Linked DNA regions of Homo sapiens. The protein of the gene in region 5 purifies or fractionates together with the protein of the main gene of each other region. This does not show direct contact. Each region holds a gene or a part of one and is shown on either strand. Other genes may lie near its edges. The genes, in order: ZDHHC13, TMEM63B, MAOB, CMTM6, TSPAN15, ABCB8 and LRRC8A.

Region 1 (3,500 bases), on a different chromosome or scaffold from region 5:
TACCACTTCACACTAGTCAGAATGCTATTATTCAAACGTCAAAAAATAAGAGATGCTGGCAAGGTTACAGAGACAAAGGAATGCTTATACACTGTTGATGGGAGTGAAAATTAGTTCATTGTGGAAAGCAGTATGGCGATTCCTCAACGAGCTAAAAGCAGAACTACCATTCAACCCAGCAATCCCATTACTGGGTATATACCCAAAGGACTATAAATCATTCTACTATAAAGACACATGTATGTGAATGTTGACTGTAGCACTATTCACAATAGCAAAGACATGGAATCAATGTAAATGCCCATCAATGACAAACTGGGTAAAGAAAATGTAGTACATATAAACCATGGAATACTATGCAGCCATAAAAAAGAATGAGATCATGTCTTTTGCAGGAATACGAATGGAGCTGGAGGCTATTACCCCTATGCAGGAACAGAAAACCAAATACTGCATGTTCTCACTTATAAGTGGGAGCTAAATGATGAGAACTCATGAACACAAAGAAAGGAACAGCAGGCTGGGCATGGTGGCTCATGCCTGTAATCTCAGCACTTTGGGAGGCCAAGGTGGGTGCATCACTTGAGGTAAGGAGTTCAAGAACAGCCTGGTCAACATGGTGAAACTCCGTCTCTACTAAAAAAAAAAAAAAAAAAAAAAAAAAATTAGCCAGGGTGGTGGTATGTGCCTATAGTTCCAGTTACTTGGGAAGCTGAGGCAGGAGAATCACTTGAACCTGGGAGGCAGAGGTTGCAGTGAGCCGAGATCACACCACTGCACTCCAGCTTGGGTGACAGAGCAAGACTCCACTGCAAAAAAAAAAAAGAAAAAGAAAAGAAAAAAAGAAGAAGGGAACAACAGACACTGGGGTATACTTGAGGGTGGAGGGTGGGAGGAGAGAGAGGAGCAGAAAAAATCACTACTGGGTACTAGGCTTAATACTTGGGTAAGGAAATAATCTATACAACAAACCCCCATGACATAAGTTTGTGTATATAACAAACCTGCACATGTATCCCCAAACCTAAAACAAAAGTTTTTAAAAGAAAGTTTTAAAATTTTCAGTTTTACTTAAATGAGTCCATAATCCCTCAAGGGATTATTTTGAAGGGGCACTGTTTTTAAAAAGTTAATTTACAGTAAAATTAACTTTGGTATACAGCTGTATGAATTTTAACACATGTATGTATGGAGTCACGTAACCGCCACCATCATCCTTTGCAGTCATACCCTCCCGTAACCCCAACCAACTCTTGGCAACCACTGATCTGTTGTCATTAATTCTGTCTTTCCCAGAATGTCATATAATGGAATCATACAGTACACAATCTTTTAGGAGGGGCTTCCTCCACTCAGCACAATGGTGCTGAGATTTAACCAAGTTGTTGTATGTTATCAATAATTCCTTCTTTTTTACTGCTGTGTAGTATCCCACTATATGGGTGCGTCACAGATAATCTATCCAAACAGTCTGCGTGGGTTGTTTTCCAGCTTTTGGCAATCATAAACAGAGCTGCTAAAAATATTCGTGGACAAACTTTTGTGTGAACATCCTTTCATTTCTCTAAGAATAAGACTGCTTGGCCATATGTTAGGTATATTTAAATTTATGAGAAACTGCTAAACTATTTTCCAGACTGGCTATATCACCTTGCATTGCCACTAACAACTATGAGAGTTACAATTGTTCTGCATTCTCACCAGCACTTGGGATTGTCAGTCTAATAGATGTATAGGGGCATCTCATCATGGTCTTAATTTGCATATCCTTAACGGCTAATGAAGTTGAGCATCTTTTCACATGCTTATTTGCCACCTGTATATCTTCTCTGGTGAAGTGTCTGTTCAAGTCTTTTGTCCATTTTTTAATTGAGCTGTTTGTTTTCTTACTGTTAAGTTTTGAGAGTTCTTTATATTATATATTCTAGATACAAGTCTTTTGTCAGATATGTGATTTGCAGATATTTTCTCCTGGTCTGTACCTTACCTTCCCATCTCTTAAAAGTCTGTTTCATAGAGCAGAAGTTTTAAATTTTAAAAAAGTCCAATTTATCAATTTGTTCTTTTATGGATTGTGCTTTTGGTGTCACGTCTAAAAACTACTGTCTTGGGGTCACAATTCCTCTGTTCAGAGAGTTCTCCCTCAGTGTTTCTGGTGACTGTGCTGCCAGGAAATCCCTTTGTGGCTCCTTGAGCTTTAACTAGATAGCTTCTCATAGAGCACTCGTCTGCACTGATGCTTATTTCCAGGGCTCAAGTCAAGGCTGGGGGCAAATCAGAGAGAAAAAAGGTAAATCAGCTACTGATTTGGTGGTTTTTGAATTCCGGTCTTTTTCTTCTTCAGTCCACCTGCTTTTCTGAATAGGTAAATTCTGATTTATCTGGTAAATAATCAGTACCCCCCCACACACACGCAGAATCACACACAGCTAAAAATAAACATGTAGGTAGTTAGATTAAAATGTAAATAAAAACATTACTTTAGGATGCTTTTCCTGATATCACAGTAATTATATTCAATTGGAAGAAGGCAAAGGGTTGAGGAAAAGAGTTGAACTATACTAAAAATTTCTAGAATCTCAATAAGTAACAGGTATAACAAAAAGTGCAGCTAAGATTGACAAAAAAAATCAGTGTATTTTTATATAAAAAATTTTTACTAGAATTTTAAAACCATAAAATGATAACATATTAATTTTAAAGATCTAGCAATACAGAAGTGAATACAGGGTTAACAATCCGGACTCTTTCCTCTTCAATACTGTACCACCAGAGATAACCATTATTAACAATTGGGTGCATCTTCCCTCATTATGTATATATATTTTAACATATATAATATTGTGCTATATACATACATACATCCACATTTTTAATCATTTTCTTCTTATACTTATTGAACAAAGAATAGTATCACATTATATACATTATTCTTCAACTTGCTTTTCTCATGTAACAATATATCATGTACAGTCCTGCAGTTCAGTAATATTTCACTATTGTTCCATTGTATATAGATCTAGTATAATTCATTCAACACTCCCCTTTGGTTAGAGACACAGGTTGATTTCAGCCTTTCATATCTATACACAATCAACACCCTGGGCATTCTAATTCTATAGGATTGATTCCTCAAAGTAGGACTGTTGAGTCAAAAAACGTGCATTTTAAACATAAATAGATTCTGACCAAATACTCTCCCCAATTCACAGTCCCAATAGCAAAGTATATACGTGTTCTTTCTCCCTACAAACCTTCCCAGAACTGAATATTATCAATCTTTTTACAACCTTGACACTTTGATGGCTAAAAATGGCATCCTATCTTTCACCTGTACTCCCCTAGTTGCTAATGAGTCTGAGTGTTTTGTTTGTTGTTGTTGTTGTTGTTAGGTATACTGGCTCTCCATATTTTCTCTTTTGTGGATTGCCTTTTCATAGTCTACTTGTTTTTCTAATGAATTGCACATATCTGTTTCTCTTTGTAGGTTAGAAAGATTA
Region 2 (3,500 bases), on a different chromosome or scaffold from region 5:
AGTTACTGTTCTAAAGTATTAAGATAGTCCTCATAAACCCATGAGAATTTAGAAACTTAAATCTGGGATAGGGTCCTTGAGATGTACTTCCCAGGAGGCTAGAGACCTTTCCTCTGATATTGTTCCTCAAACCATTTGAGGTTTCCCCTTTGGAAGGGTGAGCTCTCATTCTCACTAAACTCATCTCTAATCCTCTAAATCCAACCACACAGGCCCGTTGATTTGCATGCAAGATATTTCCTAATTGTGCTGAGACAGTCTTCCAATCCAGACAGACTGCAGACTTGGACCACAAGCCCTGCCTAATCCTGACAATGAGCTCAAGCGCTGTCTCTTAGTCCTCACCATATACCCAGCCCTGTCCCAACAGCTTGTATATAGCAGGTGTTCAATACACATGTGGTAAATGAGCGGATCAATGAAATGGCTACTCCATAATGCTCATCCCAGTGATCCAAAAAACTCCAATTAGGACTAGAGTCTCCCTTACCCCTGCTTATAGGCTGACCTCTCCTAAACAAAACTATAGACCAACCCCTGAAACACAACTAGGATCTTCAGCTTCCCAAGGGCACTGATCAGGTCTGATTATACTCTGTCTCCCAGGCATGAAGCACATAGTAGGTATACAATAAATGTGGGCTGAATGAATAGACAGTTGACTAGTAGGGTTCACTCAGGTCTCTGTTCAAATGCCACGCTGTCAGAGTCCCTCCCTGTCTATCCCATCAGAAATAGCAACCCTTCCCAACCCCTCTTACCCTGCCTGCTTCCCTGCTGTGGTTTTCTTAGCACCTACCTCTTCTTGACACAGTCTCTATTACTAGTTCATCCGGTCCCTGTCCACCCCTCCCCACTAAAATGAAAGCAAATGAGGGCAGGCCTTCTGTCGTTTACTGCTATACCCCCAGCTCCTCCCCAAGCAGGCACATAGCAGGTGCTCACTAGATATTTGTATCAAAAAACAAAAACAAAAACAAAAACAACAAACACCAGATTTCAATACAAGCTGACAACTGATTCCAACTGGATGGTAATATTAAGATGTCACCTAATTCATTGTTACAAAAGATGGTATGAGAAAAAAAAAAGATGTCACTAATTCTGAGTACACACTGTCCTTAATCCTGACCCAGAGTGCCCTTTAATGCTGATGACAGCTTGAACCTCAGATAGGACCCCAAATAGTTCTCTCATACTGACAAGAATGATCTAATTTTGACTGCTGTTTTATAGCCTGTATAAGGGCTGGGCTTGTTTCTAATTTATTTGTGCCTGGCACATAGAAGGTTGTCAATAACTGCATGTAGTATGAAAGAGTATCCATCTACTAATGCTGATCACACACCAGTCCTTAATCTTCTAACACAGGCTCTGGAATCTGACCCTGACCAGATAGATGTTCACTCTCAATCCTGCCCAAACACTATCTCTGATTGGATCACACACTGGCCTGACCCAGGACAATGAGTGAACTCTGATTCTGGCCAACTGACAGGTCTGGACCTCAGATTAAACCTTGATTCTTTACTTTCTTTCTTTTTTGAGACAGGGTCTTGCCCTATTACCCAGGCTGGAGTACAGTGGCGCAATCAGTTCACCACAGCATTAGCCTCTTGGGCTCAAGCCATCCTCCCACCTCAGTCACCTGAGTAGTTGGGACTATTGGTGCATGCTACCATGTCTGGCTAATTTTTATATTTTTTGTAGAGATGGAGTTTCGACATGTTGTCCAGGCTGGTCTTAAACTCCCGGGCTCAAGCAATCTTCTCAAGGGGATTACAGGCATGAGCCACCACACCTGGCCTAAACCCTGATTCTGATGGTAGACTGAGCCCAAATCTCAACCTCAGTCTGGGCCATGATCCAGACCACCAGCATCCTTTATCATGACCACTGGCCAGCTCCTGATTCTGACCACAGACTGACCTCAGAGCAATCTCTGATCAGACCCTGGACTAGCTCCTAAAGCCGACTGCCATACTATGAACCCCCTGAGAACTCAATGATTTTTTTTTCTTTTTTTGAGACAGTCTCGCTCTGCCGCTCAGGCTGAAGTGCAGTGGCACAATCTCGGCTCACTGCAACCTCTGCCTCCTGGGTTCAAGCGATTCTTCTGCCTCAGCCTCCTGAGTAGCTGAGACTACTGGTACGCGCCACCATGCCTGGCTAATTTTTGTATTTTCAGTAGAGACAAGGTTTCACCAGTAGAGACGGGGTTTCACCATATTGGCCAGGCTGGTCTCAAACTCCCGGCCCTCAATGATTTTTTTTTTTTTTTTTTTTAAGACATGGGGTCTCATTATACTGACCAGGCTGGTCTTGAACTCCTGGCCTCAAGTAATTCTCCCATCTTGGGCCTCCCAAAGTGTTGGGATTACAGGCGTGAGCCACCGTGCCTGGCCTCTTCTATTTTTTATTTTTTGAAACATTTGAAACAGGGTCTTGCTCTGTCACCCAGGCTGGAGTGCAGTGGTGCACAGGACTCACTGCAGCCTCGACCTCCTGGGTTCAAGCGATCCTCCCACCTCAGCCTCCCAAGTAGCTGGGACTACAGGCGCACGCCACCACACCTGGCTAAGTTTGTATTTTTTGGTAGAGATGGGGTCTTGCTATGTTGCCCAGGCTGGTCTTCAACTCCTGGGCTCAAGTGATCTGCCCACTTTGGCCTCCCAAAGTGCTGGGATTACAGCCATGAGCCACCATGCCTGGCCTCATTCATTTTTTACAGTCCCAAAGCCCACCACAGTAACTTATGACTAACAGCACTTGAGAAAGTTTGCTGAGTGAACAGATGCCTGTGTGAGAGTAGCCCTAATCCTGTGGTATAGAGACTGTCCCTACACACCCCCATGGAGGGGCCCTTCACTGATTCCCCACCCTATGAGCTGCGCCCCAAGGTGCATCCCTAGCCATGGGGTGACCAGGTAAGTTCCCTCTTTGCCTCATTATACCACCTCCCTTTTCTCTAGTTTCTGGCCATAGGTCTGCTCTACCCACCCCAAAACATAATTCTAGAGCTGAAAAAGCCTCAGAGAATACACAGTTCAAGTTCTCCTGGACTCCTTGGAATCCACTGGAAACCAAGGAGCTTCTCCCTGTCATGGCTGCACACAAACTCCAGAATGCTGCTTTTAATTTTGAAGAAGATATGTACTCCAATGGACCTGGGTCAACAACCTATGACCCAGTCTGAGCCAGGAGGAGGTTTGGGGGTTAGGGGGTTTGAATGACTCACTCTTCAGGTTTTTGTCTTATTTTTCCTGTTCTTAAAGGGGCCTATCACCCGACCCAAGTGCTAAACCACCCTGGAATCGGACATTTCTTCCTGGATCTAATCTCTATCCCACCCACGGCAGAGCTCCAGGCTAGGGTATAAGGATGTTCTTAGAGTTCAAAGGCAGAGAAGGCTCTGCAGCAGGGCTTGAGGGTAGGGGGAAGCGTGGCTTACTCACTCAAAATGCTTCTTGATCTTTTCTGACTCTGCATATTTGGAGATT
Region 3 (3,500 bases), on a different chromosome or scaffold from region 5:
AGACACCCTCTCTCTTTAGACTCTCACAAGTAGCCCCCTTTTGTGGGCCAGGAAGCCAAGAGCCGTTGCTGAAAAGATGGTGGTCAATCCAATCAGCCTGAGCAGGCCTGGCACGGAGGGCAAATGTCTCTCCAAAAAGGTGGTGGTGATGGGCTGTGCAGGGACATCCTAGGTTCAGAAAACATTGGGTATTAGTACAGGGCTTGTGCACTTTATTCCAGAAAGTCTGTACTTTCTCCAGCTCTCTGAACATGACCCATTCTTGCCAACGTCTAGACCAGTAAACACGATGTTCCCTCTGCTTATACTGTTTACCCTGTCTTCCTCACTGGACCCTTCACTTCCTCAGGGAGGCTTTCTTTCCTGAGACCCCAGCCTAGGATGACATTCTCCTTTTGCATTTTTTCTCAGCATGTCTTCTTCACTGTTCTGTACTTTTTGGTTATCATCTGCATTCTCCACCAGATGTTGAGCTCCACAAAAATGCTGCTGTGCCTTTGCCACAATGGCTGATACAGAACACGTGTGCCATAAATACTTGTTAGTAAATGAATCAATGGTCCCTACAGCCCACAATCCCATCCCTGGCAGAAGCACTAAGAGAATGACTGTGGAGTGGCAGGCCTATTCTCTTTGACTTCACACTTAAAAGGATAGAGCAATAATTCTGACCTTTGTGACTTTGTCCTCTAAAGTGCGTTTGCACTCTAACCTCTATGCATCCCTCCTTCCAGCCAGGAAAACTTCCTAGGATTTTATTACAAAAATGATGAGTATATTAAAAATAAAATTTTAATCTAAATATTCTCCATTTCATTCCATTTGTTTGTCCCTGGACAGGAGATGCTAACACACTTTCCTTTCTTTTCCTACCTCATGTGGAGAATCACCAGGCTAGATATTTATTTGACAGGCATTTATTGAGTTATTATTTTTAGAAGTCTCCGAGAAATGTCTCCCTCCTCATCAAAAAATATTTTTTCCTAATAATCTGTAATGAATGTGACAGCTACAAATTTATCAAAGTTCATCTAAATCTCTCACCTCTACCCTAACCCATGATACTTATTTAAACATTCATGTTTAAATCACTTAGTTGAATCACTTAGGAAAAGGTATGTGAATATATACAAGTGTGCTCTTCTTGAAAATAATGGGTTTAGAGAAAAGATATCTAATTTCATGAAATAAAACATAGCCTACCACAGACTCTGGTTCTGACTGCCAGATTTCATCCTCTGGAATCTTCCCCATGGCATGCAGGATCTGAAATGAAAGAACACACTGGCAAATAGCAAAAGTGACACCATCTTTCTTCTAATCTGCTCCCTAAAGGACTAAGTAACTGTCTCTTGAGATATCCATCAAAAACACCAAGGTAAAGGCCAGAACACTCCATACAACCTTTAAGAGGCGCCAAAAGGTCTTTCTCCTGTGGTATAAGAGGTTCCAATCATTAGGCTTACCATAAATTTTAATAGTTATGAACACACCTCAAATAGGGATGACATCAGAGGAACTGTCAGAAAATCTTTCCTGTGAAATGAATTGAATTTTGAGTCCTAATAGAAGCATGTTTGGTTCTAGAATATCAGACCTAGGTTACCTTTCAAGTATAGTCAGGTTGATCGTTTGCCCCATGGGCTCTTTTTACTTCGGGTGACATGTTAGGTATTTTCATTATTACTTCGGGCTAAGGTGTTCACTTCACCTGAGACAATAGTTAAAATAGTATTTTATGGGTCTTAAGATGGGGGTTACTGGAGAGTTGGTCTCCAGGCTCTCAGATATCTTTGACCTACATGTCAGGACCATGAGTTGCCTCCTTCCCCATAATCTATGACCCCAGACCCTACCTCTCGGGCTGCTCTCTCCCCGGCCTCTACAGCCCCCTCCATGTAGCCGCTCCAGTGTGTGGCAGTCTCGGTGCCTGCAAAGTAAATCCTGTCCACTGGCTGGCGTAGAACCCTTGGAACAAAACCAAAGAGGCAAAAGTGGTCAGTCTCAGAGAGTCAGAGAAAAGTTTTCCCATAAAGACCAATGCTGGTCAGCTTCCACAGATTCTAAACAATCAAGAAGGACATTGGCAATTTTGGAATAATGTTTATGTGGTTCCTCCAGCTCTTACATGATCCTTGTCACAAACAAAATAGAATAAAAGCCAAAGTTCACTCCTGCACCAAGAGTTGCAGGTGAAGGAGCTGACATTAATGGACGTAAATTATGTATTTGCTTCATCAACATGAAGTGAGGGACTGTGTAAGCCCAGTCACATGGCTCCCTTTATGGCTCACTGGCTCTGTGGCAAGGTGATACATGCCCCCAATTCCCCACTGGCTATTCCACTAGTGAACTTGGCAAATCACTTACTCTCACTGTGCTCTGGCTTCCTTGCCTCTTAAAGGGAATGGTCCACTGATTTCTAAGACCCTTTCAATCAGTAACATTTAACAAATCTGAGAGTCTGACTATGGCTCCATAACTCCTATTCCTTGAACACTTGCCTGTACTGGTGAGGTCGGTACTATTATTATCACCATTTTGCAGATAAGAATATGGAGGTAGACTGTGGTGGACATTGTGATGAACCACGCAGGCCCCCTTCAAGAATGAAAGACTTATTCCCAGCTGCTGGGAGTGCTGCCAGAAGAGGGCCTACTGATGTCAGCCCTCTTTGGAGATTGCCTCTGCTAAAAAAAACTATGTTACCTACTAGGTCATGCCTCCTTCCAATAGCAGTTGCATCCAGTGACTGATCACCACGGGCTGTAAATACCTGATTCCCAAGCTCCAACTTGAGACCTCCCACTCTGAAGGGCCATTCTAGTTCTGGAACTTCCTCTGGGGTCAGCTGAGGCCTTCACTGGAACTGCACTGCAGCCCAAGTTCTCCCTATGCCCACTCCTGCTTCCTTCTCCCTTCCACAGCTGCCAATCCTAAGGGCATGCCTTAATATATATCCTGTCTGCTAATCGTTGTTTCAGGGTCTGCTTCCTGGAACCTAACCAGCAACAAAGACAAAGTAATTTGCTCTCGGTCACAGCTAGTAAGTAGCAGAGTTGGTATTTGAACACAGGCAATCTGACTCTGGAACCTACAGTCTTAACCACTTAGTTATACTTCCTCTCTCTACTGCATTATTTCTTCAATCTATTAAAGAACTCTGTGATGTAGCTACTATTATCATTATCTCATTTTTACATATGAGAAGACTGAGGCTTGGAGAAATGTTCAGTGATATGCCAAGAGCCACACTCCTAGAAAATAGCAAAGCCAGGATTTGAACCATGTCTAACAGATGTCAAAGTCTCTATTTTTATCTTATATTCTTTGCCTGGTGTATCATCACCCTATAATATTTAATAGTTAGTAGACTGCCCACATGCTATACAAGGGACTGAAATGTCATAGCACTTGGCCTGTAAGAGGGGCAGTTCATTGTTGCTCTGACAAAAATACCATAAGGAAAGCACCGTCAACATGCCATTATTCATCCTGTC
Region 4 (3,500 bases), on a different chromosome or scaffold from region 5:
ATTCCACATGTTTTCTGCATTAATCACTTTCATCATCTATGGACTACTACTTCCAGACTGATGTTATCTGAAGTGAAGTGAGATCTTAAACACTTGAGAAACAGAGTTCAGAATCTTTCTAGAGTCAGACTATTTTACCAGCCTTTTACAGTTGCCTTGCTCTTCCTTAATTCCATGGCAGATAAATCTTGTAGTAAGTTATCTTTCAGTCTTTCCAAAGCATTCAATTTAGTTTTAAAGAAACAATTCATTTTAACACTCAGTTTCAGCTTTGTAATATTTAACTGTATGGCCATAAAAGTATAGTTAGCATAAACCAGTATGGGAACAACACAACTCAACTGATGACAGAAGCAAGAGTTCTAGAGTGCTAATGAGATGCCTACTGGCCATGGCAGGCTGTGGGTGACTGGTGTGAGGTCAGGATGCTTGGTATGGTGAGTGGAGAATGTTAACTCTGGTTAAATTGGCAACTCAATTACACGCAAGTGGGTTTTAACTACTTCCAACTGCTGTATATGTGGTACTAACATACTGGTCCTCACTGAAAAAAGAGTCAGGTTTTTTTCTTTTTAAAAGGCAAGGGTGCTAGGGAGAGAAGAAATTCAGTTTTAAATATGCTGTGATTGAGGAGGTCTGTGGAAGAGTTTGGTGAAGATGTAGTTGGAAAGCAAATGAATATAAGGTCTGGAGCTCAAAGGAGAGGTCTAAGATGCAGATAAAGATGTGGGAGCTGGCAGAGTGGGAGGGTGAGATGACTCAAATGAGGAAAGATAGCCTTATGTGGAAATCTGAGGAATCTGAAGATTTACGGGATATGCAGAGGGGAAGAAACCAGCAAAGGACAACTAGCAGCAGCAATCAAAGGGGTAGTAAACAAGAAAAAAGTATTTACACACACATGCACAAACACACAAGTAATCAAGAGTGCTAAATGCTACTTAAAGGTCAAGTAAGAACAACACTGAAACACCTACCTTAGACTGAGCTATAAGAAGGTTGCCAGTGACATTAGCAAGAAAAGTTCCAGGGTAGTCAGGGAGAGAAGCTCGATTACAATACTGTATATTGGGAAGTAAGGGGAGGGTAAGGCAGTGAAGGAGAGACAGCATAGGCAATAAGTGTGGCTGGGAAAGAATGGCCAGATAGGGCAGTAGTGGATGAGGTCAAAGAGAAGGGAATTTCAACATGGGAGAACTGAGCATGTTTAAATACTTAGGCAGAAACCAGTAAGATGGGTGGGTCTAAAGACATAGGTAGAAAAATGGCTCTCTAAAGATAGGATTCAGGGCTCAGGTTTGGGGCTAACTCTTCTCTAGAAATAGAAGGGAAGAGAGTGAAGAAGAGTATTTTGCTTGGGCAGTTTGTGTGGGTTTTGTGGAAGCTGAGGGAATTTCCTGCTGAGGGCCGAAACCATCAAAATGACTGATGACCTAAGTCAGAGGCTAAAGGGAATTCCCTTCTCACTCCAGTCAGGCCAGTAGAAGCAACCAGACAGGTTAATGGCAACAAGATTGCTACCAAAATCAACAGATACATTTCATAGTAATAGTAAATATCTTATCCTACAAAACATTTTCATTAAAAAGGGACAAACAACAGTTCAGCGGTTTCTTTAAAAACTAAGCATATATCTACCATATGACCCAGAAATAGAACTCTTGGGCAACTATCTCAGAGAAATGAAAACTTAACATTTGTACAAAAACCGGTACGTGAATGTTTATAACAATTTTATTCATAGTAGCCCCAAACTAGAAACATTCCAGATGTCCAATGGTTAAAACAAACTGTGGTACATCCATACCATGGAATATTAGCAATAAAAAGGAGCAAACTTGATATATGTAATGTCCTAGATGAATCTCCAGAGAATTATTCAAAGGAAAAAAAAAATCCAATCTCAAAAGGTTACATATTGCATGATTCCATTCATAGCCCATTCTTAGAATAATAAAAATAATAATGATGGCTAACAAATTAGTGGCAGCCAAGAGAAAGGGGAAAGGTGTGGCTACAAAGGGGTAGCACAGGGAAGCCTCTGCTGATGGCACAGTTCTGTGTCTTGATTGTGGTGGTAATTATAGAAAGCTATCCACATGGTAAAATTACATAGAATTACACACACATGCACATACAAATGTGGGACCTCCCTGTACTTTTTTTTTTTGCAATTCCTGTGAATCTATAATAATTTCAAAATAAAAAGTTAAAAAATAGTAATTCAAATCTATACTGGTATCCAAACCTTTAAGGGATTTCCTCTCCCTTCTACTGGCTATACAAAATGTATACATCCCCACAACTGCAAAGAATTTATATAAAAGAAAAAAAATAGTCTAATTGTAACATGAATGGTTACATTCTCTGATTTCCTGTAAGTTAGTGAAGCATGAAATAGCCCAGCATGTCCCAAACAACTTCCTTCAGACAGGTGTTAGGTAAGGCATTCCCAATCATTACACCACAGGATATAAAGTGACAACACCAAGATAAATCCCAGAGGGCCACTGTGTAAAGATACTTCCTTAGTCTCCTATAATCATACTTACAGGATGAGTTCTAACATGACTATAGTCTAATAAAATACTAAATATCTAACATTTCACTTGCCTTTTTCTTGCCTCTATGTTAAATCTTGTCCAAGTTTTAAAAGTTTCTCTCTGAGAAATTTACAAAATATACCTCGGTTGTATAAAAGTCAATTAACTGAGAGAAGATACCAGCCTAAAACTCTAATTAGGGTCTGGGAATAGCTGAACCACTCATTTTACAATTAGACTATTAGGCACACTCATGTGTGAAGGCTATATGGCAATAAAAGGTTATCTGTAGGACAGACATAGGCTGCTTGTCTACTTTCAGTAAAAAAAGACAGGATCCAGCTTGTCCAGAAGCAGTCAGTCTCAAGTCATTACAAGTCCTATTCCAAACGTATTAACAGGTGGCATTCCTACTGACCTTACTGACCTATTGCCTCAGAGCAATAGCAGGAAGCAGGTTCTGCCTGGACATCTTAAGAGAATCAAGGAGTACAATATTAAGTATGGACATCTGGCAGGGCACAGTGGCTCACACCTGTAATCCCAGCACTCTGGGAGGCCAAGGCGGGCAGATCACTTGAGGCCTTCTGGCCAACCTGGTTCAAGACCAGCCTGGCCAACATGGCAAAACCCCATCTCTACTAAAAATAGAAAAATTAGCTGGGCATGGTGGCGCATGCCTGTAATCCCAGCTACTTGGGTGGCTGAAGCATGAGAATTGCTTGAACCCAGGAGGCAGAGGTTCCAGTGAGCCAAGATGGCGCTACTACACTCCAGCCTGGGTGACAAAGCGAGACTATCTCAAAAAAAAAAAAAAAAAAAGTGTGGACATTTACTAGCTCCCATCTCAAGTTAAAGGCCAACAAATTGGCACTACAAGCTATAGTCAATATGAAATTCTGTCGGCCAGATGCGATGGCTCACATCTGTAATCCCAGCACTTTAGGAAGCCAAGGC
Region 5 (3,500 bases):
CAAACCCTGCCAGGGCCAGGATGCCAGGCATCACCCTGTCAACCTGCCCCTCTCCTCACTCCTCTAGCCGGCATAACAGCCTCTGATGGTACTGCCTCCAAAATATACATCAAATCGCCTTTTTGGCCCAGGCCCACTGCCTCCACCTTGGTACAAGCAATCTTACCCCATTCCCAGGATGACCCCCCACAGCCTCCCAGTTGGGCCCCTGTGTACACCCTCAACTCTTCACTGTCCATTCCCCAACTCAGCAGCCATGGTACAATATAAACTGGGTCACATCGCTTCCCACATAAGACTCTCCAAAGGCTCCTGTCACCTCTAGAAAAAACTCCAAGCTCCCAACTCATGGCCTACAAGGACCTCTGTGATCTGCCTGGCCAGCCCTTTCGACTTCACCTTCCACCCCTCTCCACCCCACCTACCCTCAGCCACGTGGCCTCCACGCTGTTTTGCTCACATGCTAAGCTCATTTCTGCTCAGCTTCCCTCTGCTGGGACCTCACTCAGCTGGCTCCTTTTACCATTTCAGCACGGGCCTCCCATCTCCTCCCCAGGCGCTCTCATGTCAGCTTGGTTCATTTTCTTAGTCGCTGCTTTACTTGTTCAGTGCCTGTCATTCTCTTTCAGCAGAATGAAAGCTCCATGGGGGTTATCTGCCCTGCTCACTGCCATACCCCCAGTTAGCCCAAGGCACCCACAGTGGGTGCTCCATACACACATGGCCGATACACAAATCCACAGGCCCACCTGGTTCCGGAAGGTCAAGGCCACCACGCCACCAATGAGCTCCATGATGAGGCAGATCCCAAGGATGTACATGAACTGGAAAACAGAATTCAGAGACTCACCTGGAGAGGAGCAGTGGGCGTGTGTGGGGTACAGGGGAGGCACCATCTGCTCCAAGAGCAAGCACAAAGAGAAGCATCCCTCGGGGAGCTCCTACCAGCTCCTAGGCCTCTGCCCCCTCCTCCTGTGAGAACGTGGACGTGGACAGGCAGGCCCCAGGAAAACCTGTCTCTGGAGCCGGAGGGCAGGAAGAGTGACTCAGCTGTCCCAGCCAAATGGTTACCTCCATTTGTCTTGGGGGTCTATGTGGAAGAGCACGCCCTTCCCCCACCACCATAAGGAGAGCTGGGCCTCGTTGCCACTGAGCCAGAGGGGCTAGGCCTGGCTTAATGGGCAGGCTGGGGCAGTATGTCCAGCTCCCCACAGAGAGCCCTCAGATGTGACTTCCCAGATCCCCCACAGTGGGTGAGGGGGATGGCTGAAGCTTAGAGGATATGCACCCCCACCTCTGCCCTTTACTAGAGAGCAGGCATTACCCAAACTGATTTCAGCAAATTCCAGCCTCAAGTAGCACCCAAACCCGGTTTACAGTGGATCGTAGGGGCTTCCCATATGAGGGGAGACAATGAGGTCAAGAGACACACAAGTGCAGAGTGAATGGATCTGCCTACTCACTACCCCCAGCTTTAGGGAGTCATCCCTCACCCCACAATAATGGGATACAGGTAGGATTGACTCCCCATGCCCCATCCCAGAATGGGCACATGGCCCAAGCCAGGCCCACCAGAGTCCTGGGACTTTGGCCAGAGCTGGTAGGAAAGATTTCCTGAGATCTAGAACCATAAGGACTTTGTTGGCCTGACGCCGGCAGTGACCACTGCAAAGGGAGCAGCCCCGGCTGGCAGGGGCTGGGGAGATTGCCCAACCCTGCCCAGTGGCGCCATCTAAACCCCTGGACCCAGTGTGGGTTTGCTGGTTGCATGAGCTAATGACTCACTACCATCTCCTTTTTTTGTCTTTGCTTGCTCTCATTTGAGTGTGGTTTTTCCTACTCGCAACTGAGCATCCAGATGAACACAGAGTTTAAGTAAGAACAGTATTCAAATCAGCTTTTACATGCAGGAGGGGAGGTGGCCTGGGCATTCTTGGGCCAGTGTGGTCAGATGGGCTGATCTAAGGAGCTCTCTAAAGGAGGTGGTTTGAGGCAGGGACAAAAGAAACTGAGCTGCCCAAGGGCACAGGGGCAGGCGCCCCAGCTCTCCTGGGGAGTCCCGGCTGAGGGGTGGTGTGGTCCACTCACTGCTTGGAGAAGGTACAGGTTGTCACGGAGGGACGCCAGCACACCAATGAAGGAGACCATGAACATGACGACGCCCAGGAGGATGAGGATGATGGCTGGAGCCAGGAAGGCACTTTCAAGGGTTTTATATTTCTGCCGCTCAACCTCTGCATAGATGCCCACAGACAGGACCAGGGCCCCAATCAGCTGCAGCAAGAAAACAGAGGGTGAGAGAGAGACTGAGGTCACTTGATTTTCTACAGCAAAGAGTCATCTGGGGCTGTGGTACCTGCTGTGGGGGAGGCTTGCCCCAGGTTACAGCACAGAAAGGGCCCTGTTAGCGGCTGAACTGTGTTTCCCCAAATTTTCTCTATTGAAATCCTAACCCCCAGTACCTCGAAATGTGACTATATTTGGAGACAGGGCCCTTAAAGAACTAATTAAAGTTAAAATGAGGTCACTAAGGTGGCCCTAATCCAATATGACTGGTGTCCTTATAAGGGGAAGAGATTATGACACAGACACTCACAGAGGGAAGACTGTGTGAACACGCAGGGAGAAGGCAGCGTCTACAAGCCAGAGACAAGCCTCGGAAGAAATCAACCCTGCAGGCCGGGCGCGGTGGCTCACACCTGTAATCCCAGCACTTTGGGAGGCCGAGGCGGGCAGATCACGAGGCCAGGAGATCGAGACCATCATGGCTAACACTGTGAAACCCTGTCTCTACTAAAAATACAAAAAAGCAGCCGGGCATAGTGGCGGGCACCTGTAGTCCCAGCTATTCGGGAGGCTGAGGCAGGAGAATGGCGTGAACCCAGGAGGTGGAGCTTGCAGTGAGCCGAGATTGTGCCACTGCACTCCAGCCTGGGCAACAGAGCGAGACTCGGTCTCAAAAAACAAAAAACAACAACAACAACAACAAAAAAAAAAAATCAACCCTGCCACCTTGATCTTGGACTTCTAACCTCCAGAACTGTGAGAAAATAAATGTCTATTGTTTAAGCCATTCAGTCTGGTACTTGATGTTATGGCAGCCCTAGCAGACTACTACAGACCCAATCTGGAGATGCCACTTTAGAGGAGAGTATAGATGGGTTAGGGGAAATGCCACTGGCTGGAGGGTCAGAGAACATGGGTTCGAGCCCCAGCTCTGCTACTTGCTAACCCTGGGCCTTGGACAGGCATTTGACCATGTGAGTCTGTGTTCTCATCTGAAAGACAGACTTGAAGACATTCATTTCTGCACTGCTCACACCACGGCTTTCGCGAGTGAATGAATGTGGAAACACTACAAACCTGGAAGTGCGAGGCCGCCACAACGCGTATTAAACAGGCAGGTCACCCCGTGCTCAGGGCAACAGACATTTCACACAGTACCATAACACGGAATTTACTTTCAGGATGACCACAGAGAAGGCCAAAGGTTGGAGCAG
Region 6 (3,500 bases), on a different chromosome or scaffold from region 5:
GCTGGCCCTCCTGGGGGCTCAGTCCCCAGTAGGCTCCCCCAGGCTGAGCCCCAGCCCTAACACTGATGCTTGGCAGCGACCACACCTCAGGGGGCCCTTCTCAGGACTTGTGCTGGTGGCTCCTGGGGCCTTCTGGCTTTTTGGGCGGTGGGGCCGCTGTCCTCGGGGCATCCAGGGCCTGCCTCCGGATGAGCTCGGCGTATAGCCCGCCTTTCTTCAGGAGCTCTTCATGTGTCCCAGCCTGGAAGATGGGAGGGAAGGGCGGATGGTTGCTCCAAGGCATGCAGGCTTCAGAACCCTCAGAGAGCTGAGCCTCTCTATCAGCCATTGGGCCCATGGTCACTTAGGCCGGTGTCCCTTCTGGGGACACTCTGAAACCAATGCCCAATCTGAAAGGAACCGCCACTGGCATGCTGCATTAGTTACTGCCACTTCCTTACTTAGCTGAATTTTGGAAGAACATGATTCCCTCTGTCCCCCTTACAGAGCCCAAGGCTCCAACTCAGGATCCGTCTCCCTGCACGAGCCCCTCAGCCTTGGCTTGAATGAGTGGCTGTTAGCCAACGCCACACGGCCTCTGGGGTCCTACTCCTGACTCCCTGCACAGGTTCCTTGGCGCTGCTTCTCCTGCACCTGATACCCTGGGCAGCTAGCCCTGCTCCTTGCTCCCAGCACCATACTCTGAGTATGTTTCCTTTTTGTTTTTTGAGACAGGGTCTCATTCTGATGCCAGGCTGGAGCGCAATGGCACAATCATTGTTCACTGCAGCCTCAACCTCTGGGGCTCAAGTAATCCTCCCGCCTCCGCCTCCAGAGTAGCTGGGAGTACAGGTGCATGCCACCACATCCGGCTAATTTTTTTTTTTTGGTATTTTGTAGAGACAGGGTCCCGCTATGCTGCCCAGGCTAGCCTCAAGAGATCCTTCTGCCTTGGCTTCCCAAAGTGCTGGGATTACAGGCACCCGGCTAGTACTTTTCCTTTTGATCCTGGGAGCTGATGGTGCAATTATACTATCCCAGGGGACAGAAGAAGAAACTGAGGGCCTGAGAGGCCAGGGCTTGGCTGAATGCAGGAACTCCTGACTCTATATGGGACGCTGCTTCCAGAATATAGCCCCCAAGGCCCTGGGGCCAGGCCACAACTTCATATAACTCATTGCAGCATTGTGCCACTGTCCGTGATGAAGCCATCCTCAACCCACTGATCCACGCCCCCAGGACAACTAACCTCCCAGACACGGCCATCGGCCATGACGACAATGCAGTGGGCCCCACGGACAGTGCTGAGCCGGTGGGCAATTACCAGCACCGTGCGGCCTGCACTGGCCCGGTCCAGGGCCTCCTGTACAACCCGCTCGGACTCTGCATCCAGCGCGCTGGTAGCTTCATCCAGTATCAGCACCGTGGGCTGCTTGATAAGGGCTCGGGCGATGGCCAGGCGCTGCTTCTGGCCCCCAGACAGGGTAGTGCCCCGTTCACCTGGGAAGGGAGGGGCAGGGCAGGAGCCTGAAGCTGTGCACTTGAGGGTGGCCCACAAAGGGGCACAGGGTCCTTCCTGAACGCCCATCAAGATCCTCTAAGTGCCCCTCTCAGCACTGTGCACCCTCCTCCTGCCTCTGACCCCCACCCCGCACTGTGCATCCTCCTCCTGCCTCTGACCCCCCACCCCACACCGTGCACCCTCCTCCTGCCTCTGACCCCCACCCCGCACTGTGCACCCTCCTCCTGCCTCTGACCCCCCACCCCGCACTGTGCACCCTCGTCCTGCCTCTGACCCTCTACCCCGCACTGTGTACGCTCGTCCTGCCTCTGACCCTCCACCTTGCACTGTGCACCCTAGTCCTGCCTCTGACCCTCCACCCCACACTGTGCACCCTAGTCCTGTCTCTGACCCTCCACCCCGCACTGTGCACCCTAGTCCTGTCTCTGACCCTCCACCCCACACTGTGCACCCTAGTCCTGTCTCTGACCCTCCACCCCGCACTGTGCACCCTAGTCCTGTCTCTGACCCCCACCCCGCACTGTGCACCCTCCTCCTGCCTCTGACCCCCCACCCCACACTGTGTACACTCCTCCTCTGGGTTCCCCCTGCACTGGCTCATCCCACCTCTGGGTCCCTCAGCCACTGTGCACACTTGCCCTGCCTCTGAGGGTGGTGTGACACCGCCAGCAGGGCTTGGTGCACTCCAAGGGAGTTGCCAAATGCCCCTCCCCAGCCATGGCAGTGCCTCAGGCCAGGATGACCCACACCCTGCCCTGTGCCTGCAGTTCCAAGCCACCTTCCCAGCCTCCCGGGTCTCTGTGGCTGTGGGGAACATCCAGCACCCAAACATGGGCTCTGGGGTCCAGTGACTCCAGGGAGGTGGGATTCGAAGCCCACAGAGGACAGCACAAGTGGCAGCCTGGGAGCCAAAAAGAACCTCAAGGTGACAGCAGGGTGACAGGTCAGTAAGGACGCAGCCCCAAGAAGGCCCAAATGAGCAGAAAGTACTAGGATCAGAGACACAAGGAAAGTGCCACCCAAAAGAGATGTGGGAGAGCACCCAGTGAGGACAGCTGGCATCTGGACAGTGTATCAACACGGCTGGAGGAGCCATCTAGAACACGATGGCTGGGCTGGGGACACTGGCCCCACAGCTCAGAAGGCTGGACTCAGACTGACCAGAGTTGAGAAGCCCAGGTATCCCTGTATCCTGAGAAGTGCTGAAACACTGTGCAACAGAGCCAAGACACTGGCCGAGAAACATGGCCCCGAAGGCTGGAAAAAGACCTGGGAGCTCCGCACGTCAAGCTGCAAGGTGCACGCCCTGCAGTGCCAGGCTGCGTGTTCCTAGTTCAGAACCACCAGAGCCCTCTCCTGGGGCCCATCCAGTCACCCCGATTCTAATGAGAAACGACTTTAGAGATGAAAAGCACAGGAAGGAAACAGGAGCCAGAGGGGGATGGATGGTGGAGAGGAGGCAGCCCCCCATTTCTTCTGTTCAGTCTGGGGAAGTGGCGGCCTTTTAGACTCGGTGAGGACTCCAAACACCATGCATCACTGTGTCCCTGGCCAGGAGCCTGTCATATGCCCTCTGTCGCATTCTCCAGCTCCTCCTAGAGCCCGTCCTGTCTCTGCAGCCTGCCTGGTCTGCTGGTTCTGAACCACACTGGCCTGGACTCCCCTGTCCCCACACAACGACTCTGTCCCCTTTGGCTGTGGTTCTCGTCTTCCCTGACACAACTGTCTTTCTCCCCAGCTGTCCCTGCTGCCCTCAGTCCCACTGGGCTGCTCACTGCTCCTGTGGAATCCTGTGTCCCAGTGCCTCACCACCTGGTTCCCGGCAGACCCGAGCACCCACCGACGACCGTGTTGTAGCCCTCGGGGAAGCTGGTGATGAACTCGTGAGCATTCGCTTCCCGGGCGGCTGTGTACACCTCTTCATCGGAAGCTTCCAGCTTCCCAAAGCGGATGTTTTCCATGATGGTCGTCCCAAACAGGACGGGCTCCTGTGGGTGAG
Region 7 (2,704 bases), on a different chromosome or scaffold from region 5:
TTCCAGCCTGGGTGACAGAGTAAGACTCTGTCTCAAAAAAAAAAAAAAAAAAAAAAAATTAGCCAGCATGCCCCTGTGGTCCTAGCTACTTGGGAGGCCGAGGTGAGATCACCTGAGCCTGGAGAGGTCAAGGCTGCAGTGAGCCGTGATCACGCCACTATATTCCAGCAGTGCACTCTAGGTGACAGAATGAGACCCTGTCAAAAAAACAACAACAACAAAAAAACCCCCTCATGAGTGCCCAACCACAGGTGAGTAGGATGACAGAGATTGTGCTGGCTATGGGATCCCCAGCCCAGGTCACAGCCTGTTACCTAGCAGGTGCTGCGTCCAGCTTACAAGCTCCAGTAACTGCCTCCAAAGGCACAGAGTCTCATGGGGCAGGAGATGAGCAGAGTTAACTCTCCTGTAGGTGCCCAAGCAACGTTCCACACGGCCCGGCAGGCTTCAGAGAAGTGAGGGAAGCGTCCTCCCATGACACAAAGACCTCCAAAGGCCACTTTCTGTTATAGATTTTATTTGATACTGTGACCGAGTCTACAAGTTCAGACCCACATGTAACGGATTTTTGCTTCATGGTTGTCAGAGGCTAGTGTGCATTATTTCTGAGGATTATATCCAATGACACGACGCAGAAAACACAAATGGACGGACAGACGGATGGACATAATCATTAAGACAAGAGACTCTAAAACGTGCCTTAGTGTCCACGTGATTGATCTAAGGCGGGGACCCTTCTAAGGTGGGGACCCGAGTGATCTAAAGCAGGGTGGCTTCCAGCCACCAGGTGCCGACTGGGCTGTGTGCACTCCAGGCGCCAGGGACGGGAACCGGCTTGGAACCAACGCCTGCCCTCCCAGGGGCGACCTCCCCATTCCCGACCAGCCTCTAAGTGTCTGCTCTTCATGAAGGACCAGGTGGTGACAGGGCTGATGGAAGCAGCGGAGGCCAGCGGTGGCACTGGACACACCCATGCCGCAGGCGGTGGGGAAACAAAGTCTGGGCGAAGTGGCTCCTCTTGGCTCCTTAACACTGTGCGTGGAGAGGCAGGGCAGGCACGAGGAGGGGAGGTGCGAATGGAGCACCGTTCATCCGGGGATTAGCCAACCCGAGTCTCCTCCCTCCTTGGCAGCTCCAGAACATTCCCTCTGGCCGACAGCCACAGAAATGAGTGCCTGCCAAGACACATGGAGGAGAAAGAAAACAAGACACCAAAAAAACCCAAAAAACAAACAAAAAAACCTCCCTCCCCAGGAACAAATAGAACTCCTGGACCAAGGTCACACCAGATCCGGAAGACACCCTGCACCCTGCGCCCAGGGAAAGGAAACACAGTTCAACGTCTGGCTGCTTTGCTCAAGGGAAACTGCCACCCTGCCCTGAGACTCCAACTCACTGGCCGTTAGTGTCTTTTTTTTTTTAAGTTTTTTTTTTCTTTTTAATACCCAAACCATCCATTTTCAAAGCTTTTTTTTTAAAAAAATTGTTTTTTGATTAAAAAAAAAAAAACAAAAAACTAAAACTGCCACAAATACTGAAGAGGCAAGCTCCAGGCCTGGCCTTTCCAGCTGGAGGCCTGCTCTCCCGTGGACCGCACCGCAGAGCCCAGCCCGGCACTGCTGGGTGACCGTCCCATGGCTGGTTCGCCCCGGACCACTCTGCTGAAGTCCAGGTGGGTGTTAAATGCCCGGCGGCATCGCTAAATAAGGACAAGGGGAAAAGGCAGCCCACCTTTCCCTGAACACCTTCCATCTGGGCTGAACTTTCTTGGGAATGTATAAGTTATCTGGATGAAGGAGGTGGGAGATGGAGAAAAATAAATACCAAGAACTAAAGTGAGGGTCCCAGGACCTCTGGTGGCAGCTCAGCCCCTGGGGCAGAGCTGGCCTCCAGGGAGGAGACCCTGATTATCCAAATACTGCGCTCTTGAGACTTGCTCTCCTCCACAAGCACTTGCCCTGGGGGACGTGAGTCTCAGAGGGAGAAAAGGGGCCAGCCCCACAGATACTGTCCTCTCGCTCTGGCCTGACTCACAAGCGGCCCCAGGCTCCTGCCCAGCCACGAGGCTGTCCTGGCTGTCCGGGAGTTCTGGGAGAAGCTAGGCCTGCCCCTCCGGGCCTGAGGACTGGGCAGCGGTCCTGCTGCTTGCTGTGCTGGGCCGGCCTCGCTCAGGCCTGCTCCTTGTCAGCCCTCCACAGCCGCTCCTTCACCTCGGGTGGCAGTGTGTTGAACAGGTCCTCCTCCACCACCAAGCCGCTGCGCTTGAGCAGTGGGCACTCGCCCAGCTCCACAGGCAGGCACTCCAGCCGGTTGCCCCGCAGCTCGATCTGCGTCAGGTTGGTCAGCTCGCCCACCCTGGAGGGCAGTGACTGCAGCACGTTGTTGCCCAGGTGCAGGGCCCGCAGCTTCCGGCACTGGAAGAGCTCCGGAGGGAGCGTCTCGATCTGGAGGGAAAAAAGCAGGGGTGAGAGTGAGGTGGGTGTGGGCTTGGACGGGGCCTCTGGGCTTCCCTTCCCTCTCTCCCCAAGATCTCAGCATCTTTTCTGATCCCCAGGCCCCCAGCATCAGCACAATCTGGGCCAAACTCTGGCCAACATCTGCCTGTGCACCAGGTCTCAGCTCTTGCTCACTTCCTCCAGGAAGCCTTCCCTGATCTCCTGGGTCTCATGGCCCCCATGTCCCCACTCGCAGTGCTCATCCTTCC

The links.
Region 1: the proteins of TSPAN15 (region 5) and ZDHHC13 purify together in Homo sapiens (affinity purification with mass spectrometry; one large-scale study listed by BioGRID and IntAct). This does not show direct contact.
Region 2: the proteins of TSPAN15 (region 5) and TMEM63B purify together in Homo sapiens (affinity purification with mass spectrometry; one large-scale study listed by BioGRID and IntAct). This does not show direct contact.
Region 3: the proteins of TSPAN15 (region 5) and MAOB purify together in Homo sapiens (affinity purification with mass spectrometry; one large-scale study listed by BioGRID and IntAct). This does not show direct contact.
Region 4: the proteins of TSPAN15 (region 5) and CMTM6 purify together in Homo sapiens (affinity purification with mass spectrometry; one large-scale study listed by BioGRID and IntAct). This does not show direct contact.
Region 6: the proteins of TSPAN15 (region 5) and ABCB8 purify together in Homo sapiens (affinity purification with mass spectrometry; one large-scale study listed by BioGRID and IntAct). This does not show direct contact.
Region 7: the proteins of TSPAN15 (region 5) and LRRC8A purify together in Homo sapiens (affinity purification with mass spectrometry; one large-scale study listed by BioGRID and IntAct). This does not show direct contact.

Annotation. Positions count from the first base shown.
Region 1 is NC_000011.10:19,123,668-19,127,167, reverse strand, and holds part of ZDHHC13 (palmitoyltransferase ZDHHC13), read right to left. Parts: intron 2,260-3,500; exon of another isoform or gene 1,996-2,259; coding exon of another isoform or gene 1,988-1,995; intron 1-1,987. UniProt on the Homo sapiens protein: Palmitoyltransferase that could catalyze the addition of palmitate onto various protein substrates. Palmitoyltransferase for HTT and GAD2. May play a role in Mg(2+) transport.
Region 2 is NC_000006.12:44,141,054-44,144,553, reverse strand, and holds part of TMEM63B (mechanosensitive cation channel TMEM63B), read right to left. Parts: coding exon 3,456-3,500; intron 1-3,455. UniProt on the Homo sapiens protein: Mechanosensitive cation channel with low conductance and high activation threshold. Osmosensitive cation channel preferentially activated by hypotonic stress.
Region 3 is NC_000023.11:43,767,451-43,770,950, forward strand, and holds part of MAOB (amine oxidase [flavin-containing] B), read right to left. Parts: intron 1,969-3,500; coding exon 1,857-1,968; intron 1,267-1,856; coding exon 1,204-1,266; intron 169-1,203; coding exon 16-168; 3' UTR 1-15.
Region 4 is NC_000003.12:32,492,853-32,496,352, forward strand, and holds part of CMTM6 (CKLF-like MARVEL transmembrane domain-containing protein 6), read right to left. Parts: intron 1-3,500. UniProt on the Homo sapiens protein: Master regulator of recycling and plasma membrane expression of PD-L1/CD274, an immune inhibitory ligand critical for immune tolerance to self and antitumor immunity.
Region 5 is NC_000010.11:69,482,465-69,485,964, reverse strand, and holds part of TSPAN15 (tetraspanin-15), read right to left. Parts: intron 2,275-3,500; coding exon 2,089-2,274; intron 825-2,088; coding exon 750-824; intron 1-749. UniProt on the Homo sapiens protein: Part of TspanC8 subgroup, composed of 6 members that interact with the transmembrane metalloprotease ADAM10.
Region 6 is NC_000007.14:151,041,950-151,045,449, reverse strand, and holds part of ABCB8 (mitochondrial potassium channel ATP-binding subunit), read right to left. Parts: intron 3,490-3,500; coding exon 3,342-3,489; intron 1,480-3,341; coding exon 1,229-1,479; intron 242-1,228; coding exon 101-241; 3' UTR 1-100. UniProt on the Homo sapiens protein: ATP-binding subunit of the mitochondrial ATP-gated potassium channel (mitoK(ATP)). Together with pore-forming subunit CCDC51/MITOK of the mitoK(ATP) channel, mediates ATP-dependent potassium currents across the mitochondrial inner membrane.
Region 7 is NC_000009.12:128,915,836-128,918,539, reverse strand, and holds the end of LRRC8A (volume-regulated anion channel subunit LRRC8A), read right to left. Parts: intron 2,476-2,704; exon of another isoform or gene 2,445-2,475; coding exon 2,169-2,444; 3' UTR 501-2,168; downstream 1-500. UniProt on the Homo sapiens protein: Essential component of the volume-regulated anion channel (VRAC, also named VSOAC channel), an anion channel required to maintain a constant cell volume in response to extracellular or intracellular osmotic changes.